Linked DNA regions of Homo sapiens: region 2 is linked to region 1. Evidence: fine-mapped expression QTL. A gene starts in region 1. The other region holds a variant in brackets. All regions are shown on one strand. Distances are between the middles of the regions.

Region 1 (9,092 bases):
CACACACACACACACACACACGCAACAGACCAACAGTTACAGGTAACAAGTCTCACAGCGTCAAGTCAACATGCTTGCCAAATACCATCTCACCTTTTGAAATACAATTAGTGATTCTCTGATGAGGGGGATAGTGTCTTAATAATCTTTGTGTCTTAATAATCTTTCCATTTTGTGTCTTAACAATCTTTCCACTTTGTCCTTTTCATGACCATTCCTCAATGATTAATTTATCATTGTCTTACTTTTTCTTTTTTTAAATCCTTAAGGCTGTTACTGCCAACACTATTTTATTGCCAATACTATTGTATTTACTTAAAGCTGAGCTTATAAAGACTCTCACTCTATTAACCCAGCTGTGGCAAATGGCATTAAGGTACCACGTTTCTGATTCACTGTGCTACTGACAATCATCACTGGTCTGTTATATTGGCTTTAGGATCTAGGCTGCAGCTATACTTCACCATAAATTAAATAGCTGAATGACAAACAATCCTTTCAGCAGCATGTTCCATCACAATGGAAGGAGGGAGAAGGAGTAAGTAACCACAAAGAAAAGCATGGTCCCCCAGGAGGAAAGCAGCCCCAGAGCTGGCAGGGAAGAGGGTAAGTAGGCTGGGGTCAAAATAGCTAAATTACTGGAAACTAAATACCAGTAAAAAGTACTTTACCATCCCTGAAGACCACACCTAAGTTCTACATACTGAGCCCAGGAGCTTCAGTCTCTACAAATTAGTGATGTAGACAAATGAAGATATCCGTGCTTATCACCCCTAGCATATCATCTCATCCCTGGTAAAAGGAGATGGACTTGAAGATTTAAAAACAGGCTTCTTCGAGTTCCAGTTCTACCTTAGGCAAATCACTGAAACTCAAGTTTTCTTGTTGCAAAGTAGAAATAATAATGCTGGTTATATTTTTTCAAAGGGTGGAGAACACACACAAAAGTGATAATAGACATAAAAGCAGTTTGAAACAAAAGTAAATTATCATGCAATAGAAGACATACTAGCATGCTACTGACATGCATTCCTGTCAAATACAGAAATGTGAGCAATTTGGAGCATCTGTAACATCAGCCACAAATGGAGTAGCATTTTTTTCCCCAAGGTACTTTCATGGAGCTTCTCCTTTCAGCTTTATCATGTAGACAATGTGACCTGAGAGGGTTCTGCTGTCTGCAGAATCCTATCCTGATGAATCTTGATCAACAAACTCTTCTCCATCCATCAGACAGTTTATTTCAGTGACCCAATTGGACATATCATTTCTGGTTTTTGTGGTACACAAATGTAGCCATTTGCTTGGCTAGATCTCTAAGTAGCTGACATTTAAAGGGAAGCTGAAACTAGCTTCAGATACTTCTCTTATAATCACCAAGTAAACACAATATGGAAAAATAAGATTGACCTCACATCTTGCTTAGGGAATGAGTTTTCATTTTACAAAAATTAAAAGCAGTTTCCCTCTGCATAGACAGCTTCCCTATGTGAGAAGTTTTTTAAGTTCAATTAACAAAAATACAATTCCATACACCACTTTTCAGACAAACATCTACAGAATAAAGGGCAAAGGACACCTTTAGGTGGGGAGTGGACATTTTCCACAGCAGATAAACCCGTTTTCCTCATTTTGATTCTACACTTATATTTAGCATCGAACCATTTCCGTAATACCAAATTATAATATTGTAAAGGTCTGGCAGGAAACTCCGGAATATGTAGTAAGAAGCCTCCCATGAAAACAAAGACAAATTCACATCTCTCTAATTGGCTCCGTTGCTGTAGCTACCTTAGACTTGGTGAGCCTTGGGAGTTTCTATGAATAAACTCAACTAATATCAAATCTGTCTGCTGCACAAGTGCTCGGTTCATTATTGTGACAAATACAAAAAAAAAACCACTTTATTCATAAGAGCAAGTCAGAGTACCTTTAAACCTCTGTGTGTAAAAGAAGCAATGTTCTGATACTGTGAAACCTTAGCCGGTTGTGTGTTTCAATAGATGCTACTGTGGGGTTCTACTGGCATACGTGCCGAAGTCAGTCAATGACTGTAGATGCTTGGCTAAAAGGAGACTCCCTGGAGCCCAACAGCATCACTTGTGATCAAGGAAATACACCAAAATAAAGAGAAGGCATGTGAATTCTGACCACTCAAGAATTTTTGCCCTTTGGAGAAGAGATCCTTCAGAACCCTAGGGATGGTTTTGTGAACCACTCCCCACTCCCCCTCAAGTTTCAAACTAAAACTTCCAAAGAAAGAAGGCAGACACTTTAAAGCAGCCATCTCTCCTCTCTTCCACATCAGTTCTGCACTGAAATTGGATGCCAAGTGCTAGGCGGATCCTCGGGATCATCTCATCTTTGAGAACCCAAACTCTTAAGGGTCCTGTTTTGTTCACTCCTGCTTGCCTCCTCGCCAGCCAAGGTTCTACATGTTTGGAATCTACACAAGTCAGATTCTGTCAGTGACCACGAGGCACATGAGACATTTGGGCACCTCCGGCAGCACCTCCCAACTATTCCGGAGTCTCAAGCAGAGCCTCGCCTCCCCCAGGTCTAACCCGCAGGCCCTCTTTCTAATTAAGTGACCTTTCCAAGGAGCGTCCTCCAGCCGCGTCCTGGGGGACGAGTCAGGGGCTGAGCAAGGAGGCTCGACATCTCTGCGCTAAACACTCAACTGTTTGTTTTCTGCAAAGTGGCAGGACATATTTCGGTGGTGACCGCAGCAACGATTCGCTCCTCGATTGTTAGGCTCTGAGTGGCATTGGGGACACTGCGATCGACGGTTTGAAAGGAGTAAACCGTTGTTTTCGGGAACTTCTCTCTCACTGCTGTGGGATTGCGAGCGGAGGGAGAAAGAGAAAGAAAAGCCCACACAAAAGCAGCCAGCCCTGCAAGCTCCGCCAGCACAAAGGCCGGCTCGCTGGTGCGGAGCTGGGAGGCTGGGCTGGAGCTAGGAGTGCGGTGAGTCCTCCGAGGCCTGCGCGCCGCGCCCAGCGCGCCCAGAGCTGCCCCCGCGCACCCCACACCTGGGCACCGCGCTCCGGAGGAGGATCGGGGCGCACGCCTGGCGCACCCAGGGCTGCAACGCTCCCGGGACTGTTACGCTCGCGGAGCGACCCCACGCCACTGAGGCTCCGGTTCCGTCCCTGCCCCGGCGCCACGTCTGCAGCCGCGGCCGCCCAAGTGGCCGGAGCCGGGCCCGTCCTCACCTGTGCGCCTTCAGCTGAGCAGCGCGCGGAGGACAGAGGCAGCGGCGGCGCGGGCGCTCGGCATCCCAGCGGCGGGCCCTGCGGCGGCGGCGGCGGTAGCGGCGGCGACTCCCTCCGCTGTCTGGGACGCTAGGGGGAGGGCGCTTCGCTTTGTTGCTTATTCATAAGGCCGCGGCTACGGCCGGGGATTGGGCGGTGAGTAGGTGTGCCCGCCCTGGCTCTGCTGGCACTGACAGCCGACGCCGTCGCCCACGCCCCCCTGCGCCCACTTCCCCGCCTCCGCTCTCCCGCGGGGGCGGCTTCTGCTGGAGTCCCGGCACCTGGGACCCCTCGGAGATCCCGTGCTCCGCTTCCCCTCTTTAAGCGGGAGCTTCTGCGGCAGCTCGCCTCCCTATCTACGCGGAAGAGACCAGGGCACCGTTTACACGAGAAAAACCTCAATTTTGCTGTCTTTGGTTCAGGCAAGGAGCGCAAATCTGAGACTGCAGTGTTCCTTGTGGAAACTATGGACGGCTTGGCGGTGCCCTTAAGTAGGACCCTTAAAGTAACTCTACACAGAATGTCCCTTCTCAGTCCGTCGGAGAAGTTGCAAACTAGTGCTAGTCACAAGTAAGGTTTATTGAGCCCTTACTCCTGCCAGGCACAAGAGTAGATGCTTTGCCCATTACTTTACCTGCTTAATCTGCACGATAGAAGGGTAGATATTGTAGTTCTCATTTACCAGGGTAGGAGGTTAAGGCTAAGGGCTGTGTAACTTCTCCAAGGTCATCCGGCTCGCGTGGCCACCGGGAATTTGTGTCCTCCATTCTTGAGCCTCTCAAGGACTGTTTTCTTTTTCTGTTACTTCTAATGGTGTGGAAAGAGGTGTCGGAATCTAAAGGCCCGTTTTGGAACAACCTCCACAACGCAGCATTTTACATTTGCAGAGCACTCTTCACATTTGTCCCTTATTGTGCTTATTAGCTCCCTTCTTCATAATACCTTAGTCCCCTTTTGTAGTTAATTATAAACACCTTGAAGTCAGAGCAAAAGCTGGCTCACCTTTGACCCCCACACCTAACACAATGCACAGGTATGTACTGGTTTCTGTTTGTTTGTTTGTTTGTTTTTGAGACAGGATCTCACTCTTTCCCCCAGGCTGGAGTGCAGTGGCGCCATCATGGCTCACTGCAGCCTCGACCTCCTCCTGGGACCTCAAGCCATCACCCACCTCAGCCTCCTAAGTAGCTGGGACCACAGGCATGCGGCACCACGACTGGCTAATTTTTTATTATTATTATTATTATTATTATTATTATTATTATTATTATTATTGGTAAAGATGGGGTCTTCCTATCTTGCCCTGGCTAGTTTCAAACTCCTGGACTCAAGCGATCCTCCTGCCTCGGTCTACCGAAGTGTTTGAATTATAGACATGTGCCACGGTGCCCAGCAGGTATGCACTGTTACCCATTCCCCCTCCCTTTAGAAATTATTATCTATGTATAATCATGCATTGATTAATTAGGGGAATACATTCTAAGAAATGTATCCTTAGGCAATTTTGTTGTTATGCGAGCATAATAGTATACTTACACAAACCTAGATGGCATAGCCTACTACGTACCAAGGCTATATGGTATAGCCTATTGCTCCTAGGCTACAAGCCTGTACAGCATGTTACTGTACTCAGTACTGTAGGCAATTGTAACACAATGGTATTTCTATATCTAAACATTGAAACAATACAGTAAAAATACAGTATAAAAGATAAAAAATGGTGCATCTGTATAGAGCACTTACCATAAATGGAGCTTATAGGACTGGAAGTTGCTCTGGGTGAGTCAACGAATGATGAGTGAGAATATGAAGACCTAGGACATAACTGTACACTACTGTAATGTACGTAACCTTACACTACTGACATAACTGTATACTATTGTACATAACTACACTACTGTAGTTATGTAGGCTATAACTGTATGCTACACTACTACTGTAGTGTAAACAATGTACACTTAGGCTGTACTGTAGACATAAACATTTTTTCTTCAATAATAAATTAACCATAGCTTACCTGAATTTTTTACTTTATAAATTTTTTTTAACTTTTGACTCTTTTTTTCTTTGAGACAGGGTCTCACTCTGTCACCCAGGCTGGAGTCCAGTGGTACAATCACAGTTCACTGCAGCCTGGACCTCCTAACCTCAAGCAATCCTCCTGCCTCAGCCTCCCCAGTAGTTGGGACTACGGGCACATGCCACCACGGCTGGGTAACTTTTGACTCTTTTGTAATAACACAGCTTAAAACACAAACATATTGTACAGCTGTTCAAAAATATTTCATTTCTTTATTTCCTTATTCTATAAGCCTTTTTCTATTTAAAAAACAAAATTTTAAAAGGCCAGGTGGGTCATGTCTGTAATATCAGCACTTTGGTAGGCTGAGGCGGGTGGATCACCTGAGGTCAGGAGTTCGAGACCAACCTGGCCAACATTGCAAAACCCTGTCTCTACTAAAAATACAAAAATTAGCCAGACATGGTGGTGCGTGCCTGTAATCCCAGCTATTAGGGGGGCTGAGGCAGCAGGATCGCTTGAACCTGGGAGGCGGAGGTTGCAGTGAGCCAAGATCGTACCACTGCACTCCAGCCTGGGCAACAGAGCAAGACTCTGTCTCAAAAAAAAATTAAACTTTTTGGTTAAAAAACAAAACAGAAACACACACATTAGCCTGGGCCCATAAAGAGTCAGGATCATTATCACCATCTTTCACCTCCACATCTTGTCCTGCTTCAGGGGCTATAACACACATAGAACAGTCATCTCCTGTGATAACAAGGCCTTCTTCTGCAATACCTCCTGAAGGACCTGCCTGATGCTGTTTTACAGTTAACATTTTTATATACAAGTAGAAGTAGTATAATCTAATGATAAAAAGTACAGTACAGTAAACACATAAGCCAGAGTAGCATAGACATTTATTATTATCAAGTATTTACTGTACATTATTGTATGTGCTGTAATTTTATATGACCGGCAGTATGGTAGGTTTGTTTACACCAGCATCACCACACAAAGGAGAGTAATGCATTATGTTGCATCGTGCTAGGATATTCCGATGGCTACCATGTCACTAAGTGATAGAAACTTTTCAGCTTCATCATGATCTTATGGGACCATCATTTTATACGCAGTTTGTGGTTGACTGAAACATTATTATGGGTACATAAGGTACTTCCAGAATGTGATTGGATTGAATTGAATCTATGAAGTTTGTTTGTTTGTTTTTAGACAGGGTCATGCTCTGTCACTCAAGCTGGAATTCAGTGGCCCAATCACTGCTCATTGCAGCCTCGACCTCCCCAGGCTCAAGCAATCCTCCCACCTCAGCCTCCTGAGTAGCTGGGAGCACAGGCGTATACCACCACACCAAGCTTTTTTTTTTTTTTAATTTTTTGTAGAGACGAGGTTTTGCCATGTTGTCCAGGCTGGTATTGAACTCCTGCACTCAAGTTATCTGCCTGCCTTGACCTCCCAAAATGCTGGGATCATAGGTGTCAGCAACCACACCTGGCCTGAGATCTGCTTTTTGTATGTATTCAGTGCAATACATTGCACTGTGGCCAGGTCTTCTACCTGGATTCAGTACCCACCAGGTGGATGAGCCACACCCAGCCTGACCACGTTGTATTTCAGCATTTTATTTTTAAGTCAGTTGTTTGAAACTCAGACCACATCTTCTTGTAAAAACAATGTTATATAGTATGGCGGGGCTACTAGCTAGCCCACAATATTAAGTCTACTCAACCCAAATACAGGTAAATAATAGTACTAAAAAAAAACTAACCTGAATTCTGGGTGTTCTAACCAGATGGCCAGGCAGAAGAGAGACAGCAAGAGGAAGGAATTCCAGTTCTCCTCACATTTACACACAAATCTGAGACATTCAAAGTTTCTTCTTTTTTTTTTTTTTTTTTTTTGAGACAGAGTCTTGCTGTGTCGCCCAGGCTGGAGTGCAGTGGCGCAATCTCAGCTCGCTGCAAGCTCCGCCTCCCGAGTTCACGCCATTCTCCTGCCTCAGCCTCCCAAGTAGCTGGGACCACAGGCGCCTGCCACCTACTCCTGGCTAATTTTTTGTATTTTTAGTAGAGACGGGGTTTCACCGTGTTAGCCAGGATGGTCTCGATCTCCTGACCTCGTGATCCACCCACCTCGGCCTCCCAAAGTGCTGGGATTACAGGCGTGAGCCATCGCGCCCGGCCAAGACATTCAAAGTTTCTTTGACATCTTCCTGCCTCCTTTTCAGTATCCCTTTCTAACATCCTACTCTTCTTAGAGACTCAGTAGCCACATGATAATCTAAGTTCCAAGTACAGAATTCTAGTTCCAGACCTGAGTTAGACTCAAAATTTTCCATTCTTCAAAATTACCCTTCTCTCATAGCAAAATTCCTGTCTCCCATTTCCTCAATATAAATTATTTCAGATGTGCAGTAAAAGTAAAGTGATCTTATTGGAACTCATTTATACTAGTCCTGTATCCTTCCAAAAATGGTTTGTACTGCTTTCAACAACTCTGGTTTATACAATTTATCTCAACATCTGCTGTTGATACATGGCAGTGGTCATAAGATTTACTCTTCTCTTCCCTCAACACACACACACACAAATTGTGGGTTAAGGAAAGTTGTACTGTGCAAGCCAAATAAGTAAATCCACATACAATGAATGTTATTAACCTTTTACAGGTAAAGCAAGAAACTATGGGGCGGTGGCGGGGGGCGGGTGTGAGGGGGAGGTTTAGAGCTTGGGAATAATAAAAACTCCAATCAGGCCAGGTGCGGTGGCTCACACCTGTAATCTCAGAACTTTGGAAGGCTGAGGTGGGCAGATCACCTGAGGTTGGGAGTTCGAGACCAGCCTGATCAACATGGAGAAACCCTGTCTCTACTAAAAATACAAAATTAGCCGGGTATGGTGGCACATGCCTGTAATCCCAGCTACTCGGGAGGCTGAAGCAGGAGAATCACTTGAACCTGGGAGGCAGAGTTCACGGTGAGCTGAGATTGCGCCATTGCACTCCAGCCTGGGCCAAGAGCGAAACTCCATCTCAAAAAAAAAAAACAAAAACAAAAACAAAAAAACCTCCAATCAAGGTAATAAGCAAGGAAACTTAGGAAGGCAGTTTTAAGGTTGCCAGATTTAGCAAATAAAAATAGATGATTCCCAGTTAAATTTGAATTTCAGATAAACCACAAACAATTTTTAGCAAAAGTGTGTCCCAAATATTAAAAGAATGGGACAGACAGTACTGAAACATTATTTGTGATTTATCTGAAATTCCAGTTTAACTGGGCATCCTGCATTTCATCTAGTAGCCCTCTCAGTTTTAGGCAATTAGTTGGTCCTGGTTAGTAGAAAGTTTTTGTGTCACAGAGGAACTGGTCAAGTTTAGCAAAGAACAGGATAACCAACCACCAAGAGCCAGAAGTGAACGATACCCATTCAAATACCACACAGAGGGAAGAGCCTTGGCAATGCAGATGTAAGCATTATGGTGTCCTTGGAGAGGCTGTCACTCAGTTGGGAAGAAATGCTTCTCAGTATGGTAACTAATTGTCATTAGTTTGATTCCCACGTACCAAGTCCCATGTACATGGCACGTGGGTCTCTGCTGATACGAACATTTCTGTCTGCTTGACCTCTATAAAATTGTTATTCTGTATTATGTGAGTGAATTGTTTGAGTCTGTTCCTAACACATCTATTCACGCCCATAAAAATTGGGTTTCTGATCTTGCAAAGTTAAGAACAAGGCCTTGAGCAGAGCTGACTTGACCGAGGTAAGTGCCACTTCATAAGGGTTCTTGCAGACCAGCTGGCAGGTCCTCCCCAG
Region 2 (9,092 bases), 160 kb before region 1:
CCTGAAAGAGGAAAAGAGAGCAGTTATTCATCAATCCTCATCCCCCTTGATGGACAAGGGTGGCCTCACAGATATCAACTCCCTCGTACTTCTGAACTGTGCATGCCTTAGTATTGACGTGCTTCCCAAGGCATGGTGTCAGGACAGTCCAGCGTCAGAGAAGTGAGAAAGCCACAGCACAAGGCTAGTCTCTATCAGGCTGCACCCATGCAAAAGCTGATTGACACCTGCACAGACCTGGTAAACACAATAGTGGCATGAGCAAGAGGATCTGGAGTGGTGTACAGGGAGGTACAATCCATTTCTTGTGCTTGTTTTTTGTGCCCTTCTTTAAATTCAGTCTATCAGAGAATCCCTTTCATGGTGGTGGCCAGCCATAGTCTCTGCAAAGACTTAATTCAAGAGGGTTAGTGGAACAAGTTCCAGTTCTACTGTTCCAGCTGATCCCAAGATCATAATATTCTTCATCTCCCTCCTCCACTATCCACTTTAGACTTTTCTCACCCTTGCCTGATGTAGGCTCATTAACATCTTGCCTGATCTAGATTGCTTGCTTGGAGGGTGACCTTGAGTGTGAGAATGACAGCACAATCCACCAATGTGAGTCTCCTGATACACTTCCATACAGATCCTCTGGCTTTCATGACATGCCTTATGTTGCTAATTAACAAACCTGAGCCTGTCATTTTCTTCATTTGCTTTTTTCAAAGCCTCCAAAGCAGTCTAAACACACCAGCCAGCTCAATCCTTGTTATTACCATTGCTCCTGTACTATTTAAGGACCACGGCTATCACACCACCCAATGCTCTGCCTCTGCCTGCACCTCATCCCAATCCACCTCAGTAAGAGTCTTAGTAACTGAGATGGCGCTGGCCAGATACCACCACTCCACCCACCTCCAAAAATGGAGTCCTTATTACCTCTGAACAGTGAGTGATCTCACTCCAAAATCCCAATTATTGTAGCCTGAGTTCCCCTGAAAGCAGGACCTCAGACAAAGTCTTGCATGCAAGTAGCAGTGAAACAAGGAAAGAGAGAAGGCCAATACAAGGATGAATTTTCAAGGTAGCATTGCAATGGACAACCAGTGCTCAATCCTAAGGACTATTCTGAGAAGCCTCATGAAACGTATCTGAGAACCGGCCACATGAGCAACAAATGGTGGGAGGATTTATCCATCAGTTTCCATCCTCATTCGTTAAGGCCCACCAGGTTAGCCCCCCTAACATTTCCAGGTTGTACATGTGTGAGTGACAAGTGAAACCCCACAATAACCCACACCCTGGCAAACTGGTGGAAGCCTGTGCCAAACTAAATGCTACTTAGGTGACTGGAATAAAAGATAGGATTTGAAGTGTCTGTTACACTTCCTCTAAGAGGTGTCTGATACACTCCCTCTAAGATGTCCCTTAGGTTCCTATTTTCCCAGGATCATTCCAGTTTATGCCTGTTATCCCATTGTAATTAACAGTGTCCCCACTTTTTTGTTTTTGAGATAAGGTCTCATTCCATCACCCAGGCTGGAGTGCAGTGGCATGATCATGGCTCACTGCAGCCTTGACCTCCCAGGCTCAAGTGATCATCCCATCTTAACCTCCCAAGTATCTGGGTCCACAGAGGCACATCACCACATCTGGCTAATTTTTAATTTTTGGTAGACACAGGGTCTCCCTACATTGCCCAGGCTGGACTCAAACTCCTGGACTCAAGTGATCCATGTGAGCCAGCGCACCCAGCTGTGCCCCTTTCACTCTCAATTGTATCCCAGTTTAGACCATAAGGATATATTCACTTAGTGCACTCGCTCTCTCTCTTTCTCTCTCTCTCATACACAGACACCCATCCCCCCCACCTTCTACCCACCTTCCAACACACACACACACACACACACACACACACACACTTTGAGAAGCACAAAAACAATCCCCCATAGAATTGGTTTATTCATAGTTGTTTTCTTCTTCATGGTTGTTTTTCTTATTTTTTACTGCCCTTTGCAGAAACGTCTCTTGATACAATGCATTTTGCGTTCATTGAAATAAATGAAGAGTGCATCCAAAGAAACCACCTTCTACTAAATCTTTAAACAAGGAACAGGTCTTGTGCCACACATTGCATTTTAATAAACTTAATTTAATGAAGCGCTGCATTCCACAAGTACAGTCAGTACAGTAGCTCTCCTTTGGGATGGAAAAATTACAAGAAGCAATGCCGAGGACCGTGAACTGTATACAGAAGCCTTGTGGATCTAGAAACCAACAGTGTGTGAACTTAGGACATTCTCAAGTTTTAAAACGTGGCCATTATAATATCATCACATTACATAAATATCACATCACCAATATTCGTTTTGTTTTTTTCTTTTAGAACCAAAAAAAAATGCTTGTAAACTGCAAAATTACTTTAGATCACTGCGATAAATCTGAATTAACTACTAGGTACCGTCAGCCCTTCATATTTGTGAGTTACACATCTGTGGATTCAACCAACCCTGGATGGAAAATACTCAGAAAAAAAAATCAGTACAGAGTAGTGTCTGTACTAAACAGGTACACACTTTTTTTTCTTGTCATTATTCACTAAATACAGTAATAACAACTAATTACATAGCATTTACATATTAAGTATTATATGTTTAGAGATGATATAAAGTATACTTGAGGATGTGCATAGGTTATTCGCAAATACTACACCAAGTTATGTAAGGCGCTTGAGCATCCATGAATTTTGTTATCAGCAGGGAGTTCTGGAACCAATCCCCCATGGATACCTAGAGACAACTGTAATTGCAAACTACTTCAGTGAATAACAGAAGCTAACTAAAAACTTAGTTCTGAATGATTGGATTGTCTGTTGCACTCTACCTACTGAAGCAGAGTGTTTACATGGCCACAGGTAATTCATTCAGTAATTTCAGGGTATGACTCAAGATGCAGTATTCTTCTCTGCGGCTCTTCGCCTTGGAGCACTTGGAAGATGCATTATCTGCTGAAAAACCAATGTTCAGTGTGGGCTGATATAATAAAAATTAAATACTTTAAAAACTGAATCAAAATCATAGCTAAAAATCAATGCTATATAGTTTCTATGACATGAAAAATCTGTGAACAAATCATTTATTACAGGTCTTGTTTTATGTTTCTCTTGTCAAAGATAATTATTTATTACAAGTGAGGTTTCTGCCATCAGCAGAGTCAAGGGTAACCTGGAGTGCCTACCTCTTTGAATTGTGATACTCAATCGAGTTTATCCATGTTAAGTACTGAGCACAGCACTTGGCCTACAGCAAGAGCTCAAGAAGTATTTGTGATTTTATTATCGCTAAGTAAAAATAAATTTGAGTTTCACTAAGATTTTTGAAATTCACATTTTATTTGCATGGCATAAAACTAGCCTATTCAACAACTCCCCATAATTAAACTTGAAAAGATCCTGATTATTTATAACAGAAAATAATTATGTCCCTAATTCATTTATTTGCCTTTTTTTTTTCTGGTTGCCTTTGATTGACTTCTGACCTTAAGCATGAACAGAAATGTGTGCTAAAAAGCCTGGTCTTTCCAGTGAAGAGTCAATCAGTTTGCCAAATGCTTACTCCATAATTTTAATCTAATAACATTTTACTAATAACATTTTATGAACAAGAACTTACTTTCACATCCAGACAATATTTTTAGAATAAAGCTCATTGCACCTTATAATGTGCTTTATTTAATGTCATCTTCTACCATGTGCAAGAAGTTTGGGGGAGTATGGGCTAGTAGAGATGTTTACAAAGGTCTTGATTGAAAGACCCACAGGGCTTTGTTAATTGGTTTTAAAGATACTTACAATTTCTCTGCAAATACATAGAACAAAGACAATAAAACGTTATTTAGTAAGATATAAGTCCTATTGAATCAGTTGGTACCCACTTTCATTTATAGACCCTTCAGAGCTGAAAGGGATGGGGAAGAGGGTGGATGAAGAAGGTCTAATGGAGAATACACAGAAGAAGCAGAAGCCATGGCTCCTCTTTTTAACA[A/G]TGACAGAGAAAGGAAAACAATGGACATAGCAATAAACATTTGCTCATTTAATTTTAGTCAAGTTAAATCAAATGTAAAAAATGTGTGCCCTATAATAATAAATGACACAAAAATACTAATTAGATTCAAGAGAGTTGAACTGAATAACCCTTTAATCAATTTAAGTCACACAGTAAGTGTCCTTTTCCCCAGTATTTCTCATAATACTACATATTAATTGCGCTTATGGTTATTCAGTCTTATTATTTAATTATAAAAGCTTATAGCTTTTACTTTGGGGGCAAAGACAAAGAGAAGAAAGTGTTCTCTAATCCCTTAAGGAACAAGAATATGACATTTGCCAATGTGCGTTGTGTTTATGGAGACTTCTTTCAACTCTGTTCTTATTTTCATCCTATGGAGGCATCCTGAGGTAAATGGGCAGTTATGGACCATCAAATGCGAAATAAATGTTTTAATGAGGAAACACAGCTTGCTCGTTCAAATACAACTTAGGATTTTCACAAGCTGTTTTCCTTTCTTCTATTCCTCTTAAAACAACCATGGGAAAACATAGCTACAGAGAGGTAACAAAATACTATGTAAATTATAATCCTGATTTTGTATAAAAATAAAAGTATTTATTGCATATCATAAATGCATAGGAAAAAAAAGATTAGAAAAGTACAGACCAAAATGTTACCAATGTTTATTATTGTTAACATTTCGGGTGGGACTGGAATGATAATTATTCTTAAGTTTTTCTGAATTTTCTCAATTCTGCATATCATTGTCCCTGAGGCCCTCCAGAATCTGGCCTTGTGCTGATATGGCAACTATGGGAAACTTGCTTTATTTTTTATATGCTAAGGAAGGTAAGTGGCTTGACGATTGCCCGTAAGAACTGTCAAAAGGCCACAGAAACTGCTCAGCACCAGGACACAGAGCTGCATTGCTTGATTCTGCAGGCTGCACATCTAAGACCAGATGTTGTCCTCATACATACCAGCCCTGAGAAAAAAGTTTCTTGGATTTGTTTTCAAGAAAAACAAGATATTGAGCTTTGTTCCCTTGTCAAAGAATAAGAAACTCTCCTATTAGCCTTTACAAATCAAGACAGTCAAACAGATCTGAGATAGTAACTCATATCTAGGGATCAACCAAAGTAATCCCCTAAAGGTATTAGGAGAATTTTCCCAGATATTTAAGTTTCATTAAATGCAAAGTTAGTTCACTGGTACCTACTATTAAAAGTAACAGAAAATGGCGAGGTGCAGTGGCTCATGCCTGTAATTCCAACAGCTCAGGAGGCTGAGGCAGCATAGCTTGAGCCCAGGCGTTCGAGACCAGCCTGGGCAACATAGTGAGACCCTGTCTCTACAAAAAATAAAAAAAAAAAAAATAGCTGAGAGTGCTGACACACATCTGTAGTCCTAGCTACTCAGGAAGTTAAGGGGGAAGGATCACTTAAGCCCAAGAGTTTGAGGCTGCAGTAAGCCATGATTGCACCATTGCACTATAGCCTGAGTGACAGAGTAAGACCCTGTCTCAAAAAAAGTAAACAAAAGAAGTCACAGAAAATGACCACACATTTACACTTTGTAAAAATTAATGCTGCCTATACATTTCTGGCAGGCTTGTAGGTTATTTTTCTCAGGCCTAGATATGCTGGGATAATACAGGGTCAGCCCCTCCAGAAGGCAGAACACTAGACCATCGTATCTAGAAGCCTCAAAAGTCCCATGACCCTAGTCAGCTTTAAATGTTGTCTTTTCCCTCATCTCTCCATCTAAACAATCTGCAAGTCCCACTGTCTACCCCTGCTGAACACCGCCAGAACCCATTCTCCCCTTCCATGTTCATTTCTGCAACCTTGGTCCAGGCCATGATTATCTCTCACTTACATTGCTGCATCAACCTTGACCTTCACTGGTGTCTCTGACTCCAGACTTTAACCTTCCCAAACCAGTCTTCCTATTAACTCAGGCCTGATCATAACACTTCACAGCATAATATTTTTGCATGACTTCTAATTGCCCTCAAATAAAGTCCTCATTCCTTGACAGGACCTAGAGGATCCTTCCCATTCAGCCCCGTATTTCACATAGCATACTACCCTCAACCCCAACTCTCACTCCCCTAGAATACCTAGCACCCCAGCCAGGCTAACTACTTGATCTCTCACCCCTGGCCTTTGCACATGGGGTTTCTCTGGCTAGATCACATATCCCCTTCTCCCCTTTATCTGAATAACCCCACTCATCCTCCTGGCCTTAGGTTTGATGTTACCTGCTCTGGAGAAGCATCCCTGATCTTCTTGACCCAGTTAGATATTCCTTTTCTGGATCCCAGTGTCTCTGATATGAAATTGCCCATTTTCTGTCTTCCCTACTAATCCATAAGCCCTTTCCAGTCATGGACTGTGTCTTGGCTCCCCCAACACTTAACATATTACCTGACACATAAAAGGCATTCAATAAATACTGATTCAGTCAGAAGCAATATCAAGTGTTCTTGGTTTGCTGAAGATAGAGTCTCTAGCCATCCTCACCCTCCTCGGCAAAGAACCAATCAAATCTTTGGGATTCGATTGGTTCAACCACAAAACCATTTCCTATTCCTCCTCCTTTACCTCTTACATAAAGAGGGAAATAAAGGAAAATGACCATTGAAGGTTTTGTATCAAAATTCCTTTTTGGAAGACTACTTATAATTTCCTACTTTAGTCTGTCTGGTCATGAAGAAGTCTGAACTACACAAATGCTGTGGCCATGTCATGAGACATAAAATTAGAGAAATGATTCAAATGCTTTTGGTCCCTTCCTTTATTTGACTGCTAATTAGGAAGAGAATATTGAGATGGACATGACACTGGTTAATAAAAACCTCAGTTTCCTGAACTGATGCCAGGTTTATTCTTTTGAGACTAGAGCAGATGATCTACCCACCTTAAAGGTAATAAAATAATCCAAGTGGATGCCCACTTTGCCTGCAACTTTGCTTGCACTCCATTCCTATACCTATACACTTTGAGAAAAAAGATAACAGGATTTTCCCCCCACAGATAATTCTTCTGTTTCTACTCCTCAGTTCCTCCATCCTTAACCCACAAAAGGTTACACCTCTCAGCAACATCCATCTGAAGAATTTATACTCTATATTACAAATTGTTGATGGTTATCACTTACATAAGTGATCTTTTCCTGCTGCTTCTTGAAAAGAGAAAGTAGGATATTTGCTTTACTAGGTGGAATATGTAAGTTTTTTTACATCAATTTTTTTGTGCTTTTACACAAACTAGAACATGGGAGCAAATGACTTGTTTCTTTGTGCTTTTGCTGCTACTTACTGAGGGAATTCCTTAATTACTTCCTTCCTTCCTTCCTTCCTTCCTTCCTTCTCTTTATCCTATATGCACATGGTAGAAATTTGGGTTAATTAAAAGGGAGTTAGATATACCTATTACCCCAAATAGGACACTCCCAGTGCATTTGTATTACAGCGGCTTGCAAAATAAATGCTGGGGTTTTTTTCTGCATGCAGAAATTAAGCAACAGGATTATGTTTCCAGCTATGTTAACTGCCAGTCTATAATTATCAGGGCAACATCTCTCCACAGCTCATCTTCAGCTTATCAGTCTAGGAGTGCTAAATGTGCACATGTGGGACTTTTACTAAGTCAGTACCATTATTTTGCTTTCAAATTATTTCCTATTCCTAGAAGTTTATATTCAGTCATTTGAAGACTGTGCAATTAAAGAAGATATCTAACTGAGCTTAAGCTCATTTAAAGTAACCAAGCACCTTTTACCTCCTCATCCATCTTGGACTTCAGTTCCCCACCCCCAGCTATGTTCATTCTAACTACTATGAGATAATATTATTTGATGGAGAAGGTGGAGGCAAAATGGATTTGTGTAGCTTTATGGTCCCTTCTCCTGTTAATGATCTTCCTCATTTGTATTCTTCTCCTTGCTTTTCTCTATATTTTTTCAAGCATTGGTCCATTCAGAACTTTGGCATCCTCCAGCACTTTCTAATGTTTTGTGCCATTTTTATATTTGCCTTGCATTATGATTTTCCTCCATCTTCTTCTACCATATTTCTTTGCTTGAAACCACACCTTCACATACCATAAAGGGAAGAGATTTTTTTTCAGTTGTGTTCCTGCCTCTTCAAATTCCTCTGTGGTCATAAAAAAGCCTGTCTTGCCAAAATGTCACGTAGCTATAACCTTGCGCCAAATAGTACATCTTGTTTCCAAAAGCTGTTTTTTTGGCAGCTGGTAGGAACATGGATTATTCATATCTGCAGAAATCACAATCCCTGTGGAGGATTTGATTCTTCTCCCCCAGGTTGTGGCTGTGATTGGAAATAAGGTGTTTCATTTGGACTTCTACAGGAAGAAGACACCTGGAGGCAGACACAGAAGGAAGAGCGAGGTATTCAGTATGCTCCATGCACTCTATGTAATTTTCGGATACCTATATAAAATGTTTTGGCTTTTAACGCTTAGCATTTGGGGAAAAAAATCATAAAATGAAAAACCACTTTTAATTGACTCTTCAAAAATTACTTTAAATGTGTTCTAAAACTTGGCTTTAAAATTTCTTCATACAGTTTTGACCTATGTTAAGAGATACAGGTACTTTAAGAAAGTGTTTCTGGAAAATTGTATTTGAGGCAGTTTATCAGCTGAAGGCACAGCTAAGGCATCGCTAAGGGAATCTGTTACCCTGGGATACTAATTAACTCCAAATATTGCATATAAATTAAGCTAGCAGCTACTGAAAGAAACAGCTTATGGGAAAGAAAAAACTAAAGAGGTTGGAAAGAAAAGCACTGTCTTTTCTAATTAGAGAAAAAGACATCAGGGGTATGGGAGAAACCCTTTTCTCTCCATCCCAGCCTTCTATTCTTTTTCTAGTAGCTTCCATCCTTTTCTCTTTCCTTGTTTTCCTTTCTCCTTTCTCCACAGCAGGTGTGATTTATTGGATAGCATGACCAGGGAAAGTGTCTCTTCCTACAGGGGACTGCTCTCCTTGTCTCTTTTGTGTGTGTGTGTGTGTGTGTGTGTGTGTGTTTGT

What was found.
Region 2: its variant is fine-mapped to the expression of ARMH4 in esophagus muscle (GTEx, PIP 0.93).

Annotation. Positions count from the first base shown.
Region 1 is chr14:58,148,860-58,157,951 of GRCh38, forward strand. It overlaps ARMH4 (armadillo like helical domain containing 4), which reads right to left and starts at 3,354. Exons shown (of 8, transcript NM_001001872.4): 1 at 3,216-3,354. RefSeq lists silencers at 2,889-3,078, 3,179-3,398, 3,292-3,586, 3,479-3,548.
Region 2 is chr14:57,991,432-58,000,523 of GRCh38, forward strand. No RefSeq gene overlaps it. Among named protein-coding and RNA genes, the nearest start is that of SLC35F4, 130 kb to the left of the region's middle. The variant A/G (reference allele first, on the strand shown) is at 4,026.